Linked DNA regions of Homo sapiens. The protein of the gene in region 1 purifies or fractionates together with the protein of each later gene. This does not show direct contact. Each region holds a gene or a part of one and is shown in the gene's direction. Other genes may lie near its edges.

The links. The genes of interacting proteins can lie anywhere in the genome.
Region 2: the proteins of LRIT3 (region 1) and GPR107 purify together in Homo sapiens (affinity purification with mass spectrometry; one large-scale study listed by BioGRID and IntAct). This does not show direct contact.

What each region holds. Positions count from the first base shown.
Region 1 is NC_000004.12:109,850,216-109,855,299, forward strand, and holds part of LRIT3 (leucine-rich repeat, immunoglobulin-like domain and transmembrane domain-containing protein 3 precursor), read left to right. Parts: intron 1-1,288; coding exon 1,289-1,761; intron 1,762-5,084. UniProt on the Homo sapiens protein: Plays a role in the synapse formation and synaptic transmission between cone photoreceptor cells and retinal bipolar cells.
Region 2 is NC_000009.12:130,101,610-130,105,921, forward strand, and holds part of GPR107 (protein GPR107 isoform 3 precursor), read left to right. Parts: intron 1-2,810; coding exon 2,811-2,941; intron 2,942-4,312. UniProt on the Homo sapiens protein: Has been proposed to act as a receptor for neuronostatin, a peptide derived from the somatostatin/SST precursor.

The sequences.
Region 1 (5,084 bases):
ATACTTTGCAAAACTTCTTATTGTTCATTTTTCATAATTCAGATGAGTATCTCATAGGAGATAAGTCTTTTTCCAGGCTAAAATGAATCTAAATTCTCAGATTCCTCATACTTTAAATTTACACATGGGACAGTGTTGTCTTCCTTCCTTCCTTCCTTCCTTCCTTCCTTCCTTCCTTCCTTCCTTCCTTCCTTCCTTCCTTCCTTCCTTTCTTTCTTTCTTTCTTTCTTTCTTTCTTTCTTTCTTTCTTTCTTTCTTTCTTTCTTTCTTTTCTATTTTGAGATGGAGTCTCGCTCTGTCACCCAGGCTGGAGTGCAGTGGCGTGATCTTGGCTGACTGCAACCTCTGCCTCCCAGGTTCAAGCGATTCTCCCACCTCCGCCTCCTGAGTAGGTAGGATTACAGGTACCTACCACCGCGCCTGGCTAATTTTTGTATTTTTAGTGGAGTCGGGGTTTCGTCATGTTGGCCAGGCTGGTCTCAAACATCTGACCTCAGGTGATCTGCCCACCTTGACCTCCCAAAGTGCTGGGATTACAGCCATGAGCCACATTGCCCAGCTGGGACATTGCCCAGTGTTGTTTTTCTATGCCTGTTTTATATGTGCCAACAAACAAGATCAAAATGTGACTTGCTCAAGGTCAACTCCTAATTTCTGGTTTATTCCTTAGGCAGAAAGCAATGTGCAAGTCACGTTATTAAAACAGAGTTCAACTTTAAACATGTACTGTGAACACTTTTTTTTTTCACCTAAATAAATTATTCTCTGAACAAGGATTGATTTATTATTTTAACAGGGGGTTCTTTTAAAATGGGCCATTTCCTAAAGAGGTGCACTTTAAGTTGGACAGAAGTGGTTTTGAAAGGTGGCTGTGAAACCCACTAGCTGGGTGACCTTGGAAAGTTACTGAATGTTGGTGGGCCTCAGTTACTTTCCATGTAAAACCGAGGTTGTTGACAGTAGCAGCAAATACCTACTGAGTACCTATTCTGTGCCAGGAAGTTGTAGAGTTTTACATCCATTGTAATTAATCATCCATAACAGTGCCATATGGGAAAATGAGGTTGAGACACTGGTGAAGTGGTTTTCCATGGCCACAGAGGAGGTGGCAAACCTTAGACCTTGGTTAGATTTGAACCAAGGCCCTCCTCGGCCTCCCAAAGTGCTGGGATTACAGGCGTGAGCCACTGCCCAGCTGAAAATTGATACATTTTTCAAATGAGAAGTATTTTTTTCAAATGGGTGTTGGAAAGTGAGTTTCCTCACATTGTTCATGTTGTGACACTAGGTTGGTGCTATGTAATGACATGGATATGAACGAGCTGCCTACGAACCTCCCCGTGGACACTGTGAAGCTTCGCATAGAGAAGACTGTCATCCGCAGAATCTCTGCGGAGGCCTTCTATTACCTGGTGGAGCTCCAGTATCTCTGGGTGACTTACAATTCCGTGGCCAGCATTGACCCCAGCAGCTTTTACAACCTGAAGCAACTGCATGAGTTGCGCTTGGATGGGAATTCTCTGGCTGCTTTCCCTTGGGCATCTCTGCTGGACATGCCCCTTCTGAGGACCCTGGACTTGCACAATAACAAAATAACCAGTGTGCCAAATGAGGCGCTCAGGTATCTGAAGAACCTTGCCTACTTGGATTTATCAAGCAACAGACTCACCACATTGCCACCAGATTTCCTGGAGAGCTGGACTCATTTAGTTTCAACACCTTCTGGAGTCCTGGACCTTTCCCCAAGCAGGATTATTCTTGGTAAGCTCGCAAGCCTCTGGGCTTTTCATCTATAGTTACTTTGCTATGCATAGCTTTTTTTGTCCAGTCTTTTAAAATTTGTTGGATTTGGCTTTTTACTCTGTAATTGCACTTTTACTGGAATAGTACCTTATTAGTTAACCTAGGTCAAGTTACCCTTTCTCCTGTGTAAGGTGTAAGAGCTGTGTGTGTGTGCATGCATGTGTGTACATACATGTGTGGAAAAGTGGAGAAGAACTTGCATCATAAATGGAGAGAGGACCATTTCTCTTAAAGAGCATCCAGCTGAGAGACAGAATCAACCAACTGCATAGACTCTTGTGAGCACAGCATTGCTCCATACTCTGGTACAAAGTTCTGCTCAGTTTGCTTTTCAACTCTTCATTAGGTTCTTCAGGAGCAGGAGAGGGGCACTGGCATCTTTATGCGATAGCAGTGGCTTCATTAGTTAGGAAGAATAGCTTCTAAATTTCCTTAATCTAAAAAGAAATGGTGGAAACACCAGTTATTTTACTGGCCCCAAATGGTTCTCCTAACTGATTTGGTCTCTTAGTTTAGCTGTGACTAGTTTTGGAATTTTGAACTTGGTCTTGTTTAGGTTCTATGTGTATTTCTCTGGTTCTTTTTATTATTATTATTATTATACTTTATGTGCAGAACTTGTAGGTTTGTTACATAGGTATAAACATGCCATGGTGGCTTGCTGCACCCATCAACTTGTCATCTACATTAGGTATTTCTCCTAATGCTATCCCTCCCCTAGACCCCTACCCCACAACAGGCCCCAGTGTGTGATGTTCCCCTCCCTGTGTCCATGTGTTCTCATTTTTCAACTCCCACTTATGAGTGAGAACATGCAGTGTTTGGTTTTCTGTTTCTGTGTTAGTTTGCTGAGAATGATGGTTTCCACTTTCATTCATGTCCCTGCAAAGGACATGAACTCATGCTTTTTATGGCTGCATAGTATTCCATGGTGTGTACATGGCACATTTTCTTTATGCAGTCTATCACTGATGGGCATTTGGTTCGAAGTCTTTGCTATTGTGAATAGTGCTGCAATAAACATACATGTGCATGTGTCTTTATACTAGAATGATTTATAATCCTTTGGGTATATACCCAGTAATGAGATTGCTGGGTCAAATGGTATTTCTGGTTCTAGGTCCTTGAGGAATTGCCACACTGTCTTCCACAATGATTGAACTAATTTATACTCCCACCAACAGTGTAAAAACGTTCCTATTTCTCCACATCCTCTCCAGCGTCTGTTGTTTCCTGACTTTTTAATGATCGCCATTCTAACTGGCATGAGATTACATCTCATTGTGGTTTTGATTTGCATTTCTCTAATAACCAGTGATGATGAGCTTTTTTTTCATATGTTTGTTGGTTGCATAAATGTCTTCTTTTGAGAAGTGTCTGTTCATATCCTCTGCCCACTTTTTGATGGAGTTGTTTGTTTTTCTTTTTTCTTGTAAATTTGTTTAAGTTCCTTGTAGATTCTGGATATTATCCCTTTGTCAGGTGGATAGATTGCAAACATTTTCTCCCATTCTGTAGGTTGTCTGTTCATCACTTTGATGATAGTTTCTTTTGCTGTGCAGAAGTTCTTTAGTTTAATTAGATCCCATTTGTCAATTTTGGCTTTTGTTGCCATTGCTTTTTGGTGTTTTAGTCATGAAGTCTTTACCCATGCCTATGTCCTGAATGGTATTGCCTAGGTTTTCTTCTAGGGTTTTTTATGATTTTAGGTCTTACATTTAAGTCTTTAATCCATCTTGAGTTAATAAGGTGTAAGGAAAGGGTGCAGTTTCAGTTTTCTGCATATGGCTAGCCAGTTTTCCCAACCCCATTTATTAAATAGAGAATCCTTTCCCCATTGCTTGTTTTGTCAGGTTTGTCAAAGATCAGATGGTTGTAAATGTGTGGTGTTATTTCTGAGACCTCTGTTCTGTTCCATTTGTCTATATATCTGTTTTGGTATCAGTACTGTGCTGTTTTGGTTACTGTAGCCTTGTAGTATATTTTGAAGTCAGGTAGCGTGATGCCTCCAGCTTTGTTTTTTGCTTAGGACTGTCTTGGCTATATGGGCTCTTTTTTGGTCCCATATGAAATTTAAAGTAGTAGTTTTTCCTAATTCTGTGAAGAAAGTCAATGGTAGCTTGATGGGGTTAGCATTGAATCTATAAATTACTTTGGGCAGTATGGCCATTTTCACAATATTGATTCTTCCTATCCATGAGCATGGAATGTTTTTCCATTTGTTTATATCTTCTTTTATTTCCTTGAGCAGTGGTTTTTAGTTCTCCTTAAAGAGATCCTTCACATCCCTTGTTAATTGTATTCCTAGGTATTTTATTCTCTTTTTACCAATTGTGAATGGGAATTCACTCATGATTTGGCTCTGTTTGTCTATTATTGGTGTATAGAAATGCTTGTGATTTTAGCACATTGATTTTGTATCCTGAGACTTTGCTGAAGTTGCTTTTCAGCTTTGGCTAAGATGATGGGGTTTTCTAAATATACAATCATGTCATCTGCAAACAGAGACAATTTGACTTCCTCTCTTCCTATTTGAATACCCTTTATTTCTTTTGCCTGATTGCCCTGGCCAGAGCTTCCAATACTGTGTTGAATAGGAGTGGTGAGAGAGGACATCCTTGTCTTGTGCCGGTTTTCAGAGGGAATGCTTCCAGCTTTTGCCCATTCAGTATGATATTGGCTGTGGGTTTGTCGTAAATAGCTCATATTATTTTGAGATACATTCCATCAATACCTAGTTTATTGAGAGTTTTTAGCATGAAAGGGTGTTGAATTTTATAGAAGGCCTTTTCTGCGACTATTGAGATAATCATGTGCTTTTTGTCACTGGTTCTGTTTATGTGATGGATTACATTTATTGATTTGCATATGTTGAACAAGCGTTGCATCCCAGGGATGAAGCCAACTTGATTGTGGTGGATAAGCTTTTTGATGTGCTGCTGGATTCAGTTTTCCAGTATTTTATTGAGGATTTTCATGTCAATGTTCATCAGGGATATTGGCCTGAAATTTTCTTTTTTTGTGGTGTCTCTGCCAGGTTTTGGTAGCAGGATGATGCTGGCCTCATAAAATGAATTCCTGTTTTTCTTTTTTTCTTTCTTTGTACCTCTGGTACCTCTGGTAGAATTCAGCTGTGAATCCATCTGGTCCTGGGCTGTTTTTGGTTGGTAGGCTATTTAATTACTGCCTCAATTTCAGAACTTGTTATTTGTCTATTCAGGGATTCAACTTCTTCCTGGTTTAGTATTGGGAGGGTGTATGTGTCCAGGAATTTATCCATT
Region 2 (4,312 bases), on another chromosome or scaffold:
CAGTGAGTTTCCACAGGTAGAATATGGTAGTAGACGTGAGGGGCAAACATTTCCTAAATCCTTACCATGTTTGGGGCCGAGGGCCAAGGCCAGCCTTACAAGGCTGTGAGTCTTTTGCGGGAGGAGCCTTGTCTTACTGGAAGCAGAACTTGGATGTAAAGAACTTACAATGAACAGAGAGGTTTTAGCAGGGATGCACAGCTACCCTGCTCTGCTTGACCAGACAGCGTCTGTTTGACAGAGTTGTCCCTGTGAACTTTTCTCACATTTTGGAGCACAAAGTAAATGTGGAAGGTTGGGGGTGGAAGGGGACAACTCCTGAGGCACCCAGATCAGCCGTCCCAACTCTGGCAGAGTTTGCAGCAGAGCTCCTCTCGGAGTTCTAACAGACCTCATCCACCCTTACGTTCAATAATGAGGAACATGTGTTGACATCAAATGAATGGGACAGGCCAGTTGCTCTGTGTTTCCAAGGAGAGAATAAGCACTCAAGTTGGAAGGATCAAGGAGGGCTTTGTGACAGAGATAGGGCTGGCCTGGGTGTTGAAGGAAAGGAATGTGACAGAGGCAGTAAATACACATGACCCTGCTGTCTGCTAAGCAAAACATGCTGAGGGACTGTGCCGGTCTTTCGGCTGTCGAGCCACCGTGGTCACTTCTTCAGCCAGACTGAGTCCTACAGCCTGCCGAGGTCTCGGAGTTGTGAATGACGGAGACTGGGTTGTCACCCGGCTGCGTGTGCCTCTTCCCTTTAGTAGAGTCCCTCATCCCTCTAGAGTCTCCCCCCACCAGCCTGAACCAGGCTGTCGTGGGGCATAGCCTTCCAGGAAGCCCGTCCTGGGCTTCCCTGAAAGACAGACACACAGAGTTCCATGGAATGTCAGTCTGAGAAGATAAGGACATTTAACAAATTAAGAAAGTCATGAGTATTTAGACAATAGAACTAGTCTGGGAGGGCCTTAAATGTCAGCCTGAAAAGTTAAAACTGCTTCCTTTTGGCCATGGGCAGTGACAGAAAGTTTCTAAGTAAGGAGTAGATGATGTCCCTGCAAAATGGTGTTTCAGGAACACTCTTGGCACGTTGTTCAACACTGGGAACATTCTGTCTCTCATGCAGTGTGTGAATTAAGGACAAAATGGAATTTTGAATTTAAGATGTGAAAGCCTTTGTTTTCTACTTTGTCCTCTTACTTTTAGACAGGGTCTCACTCTGTCGCCCGGGCTGGAGTACAGTGGTGATCATGGCTCACTGCAGCCCTAAACTCCTGGGCTCAGGCGATCCTCCTGCCTCAGTCTCCCGAGTAGCTGAGACCACAGACGTACACCATCACACCTGACTAATTTTTAATTTTTTTTTTTTAATTAGAGGCCGTGTCTCACTATTTTGCCCAGGCTGGTGTCAAACTCCTGGGCTCAAGCAATCCTTCTGCCTTGGCTCCCCAAATTTCTGGGATTATGGGTATGAGCCACCGCACCCAGCCCTACTTTGTCTTTTTAGATGGAGCCACAGATGCTAGTGTTTTGGATAGACAGGGCTTCACGAGCAGTGTGGGACAGGGAAGGACCCAGAAGCTGGGGGTCATTGGAGAGGCTGAAATTTCAGATAATTTTTGCATTAGTTTTAAATGAAATTTCGGATAATTTGATTCTAAGTCCTGTATAGAAAGAGAAATTAAACTTAGAGACTTCCTAAATAATAGCACTACAGATTTTACATGCAAAGTGTGGAGGATTACCTTTTACAGCAAGTCAGGCAGAGATTTGGGACCAGGGACTTCTCATGGGGTATATAGGTGGAATGATAACCTCTGCATCCATTCCCAGTGGTAATCTTCAAAAGGATGTATTATAAGTGGTAAATTTCCCTTATGCTCTGTGGCATCTCAGTTTAGCCAGTGGAAAGACTTTTTATAAAGACTTATGCTAAGAGCCTAATAACGGGCCTGAGTACAGAGCTTAATAGTGGGCCTGAGTATATGAGGCTGTAGGGCTGGAATCAGCCATGCTCACCCTCTGGTCTCTGAAAACACAGTTCCATTGTCTGGCACTTAGATGAGTTATTGTCACTGAGCACCATGGCCTGAAAAGTATGGGCATTGTGGCTAAATAGGGTGTTAAGTGCCACCTATCCAGCAGTCCAGCACCTGAGTGACTCCACTGGGTTTGGGGTACCTGAAAAGCAAAGTGTCCCTGTTATCTACTGCTGCATAACAAATCACCCCAAAACTCAGCGACTTAAAACGACAATAACCCGTCATTCTCTCTCTCAGTTTCTGTGGGTTAGGAATTCAAGAGTGGCTAGCTGGGTAGGTCTGACTTGGGTCTTGTGGTCATAGTCACACCATGGCTGGGAGCATCTTGAAGTCTCCACTCGCATCTGTCTTCTGGGCTGAGAAGCTTGCTCAGGTGGGGACTGGGACAGCCGGGGCTCCTGGGGGGGCCTTTCCATCTCTGCATGGTCTGTACAGCAGGGTAGTTTCAGGGTAGCCAGACTTCTTACAAGAAGGCTTAGGGCTCCAAAGGTCCCAAGAGAGCTGGGTGGAAGCTTTATCTACCTTGGAAATCACACAGCAGTACTTCCATCTTACTGTATTAGAGCAATTACGGCCTGTGCAGATTCAGGGGGGTGGCATAGAGACTCTCCTTGATAGCGGAGTGGCAGAGTTCTGGAAGAGCACGTGGGACTGGAAAGAATGCTGTGGTCGCAGATCGTGGGTCTGGAGGCCAAGGTGTACACCCCACATTGGGGCTGCTAGCATCATAACAGTCCACCCATGCTTTGGGGCCTCAGCAACTTCTCATGTCTGTAGGTCCTGGCAAATGTAGCCTACATCATCATAGAGTCCACCGAGGAGGGCACGACTGAATATGGCTTGTGGAAGGACTCTCTATTTCTGGTCGACCTGTTGTGTTGTGGTGCCATCCTCTTCCCAGTGGTGTGGTGAGTAGCTCACAGGGAGGGAGGCCACATGACAGCTTGGCTGTCAAGCCCAATAGCTGAACTGGCCATTCCCAAACTGATCTCAGTCACATGGGACGTGTGTTTAAAAGTACAGCTTTCTGAGTCCCAGACTGACCTGAATCAGCCTCCAGGGGCAGAACCCTGTGTCTTTTTCCAGTTACTCGGGGTATTCTGGCAGAGCTAATCCGTCACCATGAGCTGGCATTTAACAGAGTTCTAAGACAATAGAGAGGAATTGGGAAATGAGAACTTGGTAGTAACTTAAAGTAGCAGCCTGAATTTGTGGTGGTGGTAGGGAGTTGGAGAAATCCCATAAACAGCCAGTTCTTGCCAACTTAGGTGGAAAATGAGGAAGTTCATTAACATAAAACTAGTGATAGTTCTCAGCACACAAACATTTTTGATGTTTTCAGAATGGATTGCTCCATTCCTGGAAATGGCAGTGTTTAGATGCACAGATTGTGCATTGGGTCTGTGTAAAGAAGTGTTAGTGTCAAGTCAGTGGTTGATGAGAAAATATCCTTATTAAATCACATGCAGAGTGGTAGAAATTCAGAAGGCTAGCAGCAATAAAACACTTTACCCTTAGTGATATAATTCCATGGCTATTGGAATGCAATTCTTTTGAAATAAATTTTAAAGAAAATAGATTCACCCCGGCCTTCCATTACAAGTGCTTCTTTTTTTTTTTTTTAACCCGAGATGGAGTTTCGCTCTTGTTGCCCAGGGTGGAGTGCAATGGCTCAATCTCGGCCCACTGCAACCTCTGCCTCCTGGGTTCAAGTGATTCTCCTGCCTCAGCCTCCTGAGTAGCTGGGATTACAGGTGCGTGTCACCATGCCTGGCTAATTTTTTTTGTATTTTTAGTAGAGACAGGGTTTCGCCATTTTGGCCAGGCTGGTCTCAAACTCCTGACCTCCGGTGATCCACTTGCCTTGTCCTCCCAAAGTGCTGGGATTATAGGCATGAGTCACCGCAGCTGGCTGAGGTGCTTCTTATTGCAATGCCCCATCCAGTAAATTAATATTTTTGAGGATCCTGGGGTTTGTCAGTTACTCTCATTATTTATAACATGGTGCAAATGGAGAGTACTTCTCATTCCAGCCAGTTAGATTCACTCTTCACCCTCATTCCATCATACATCACACATGATCTCGTATCAGTTCAGCAGACAGCTACCAGCATAGAAGAGAGTATGAATGATGCTCCCACCTCAGCCTCCTGGGTAGCTGGGACCACAGGCACACACTACCATACCCAGCCAATTTTTTGTAGACAGGGTTTTGCCATGTTGCCCAGGCTGGTCTCAAACTCCTGGGTTCAAGTGATCTTCCCACCTCAGCCTCCCAA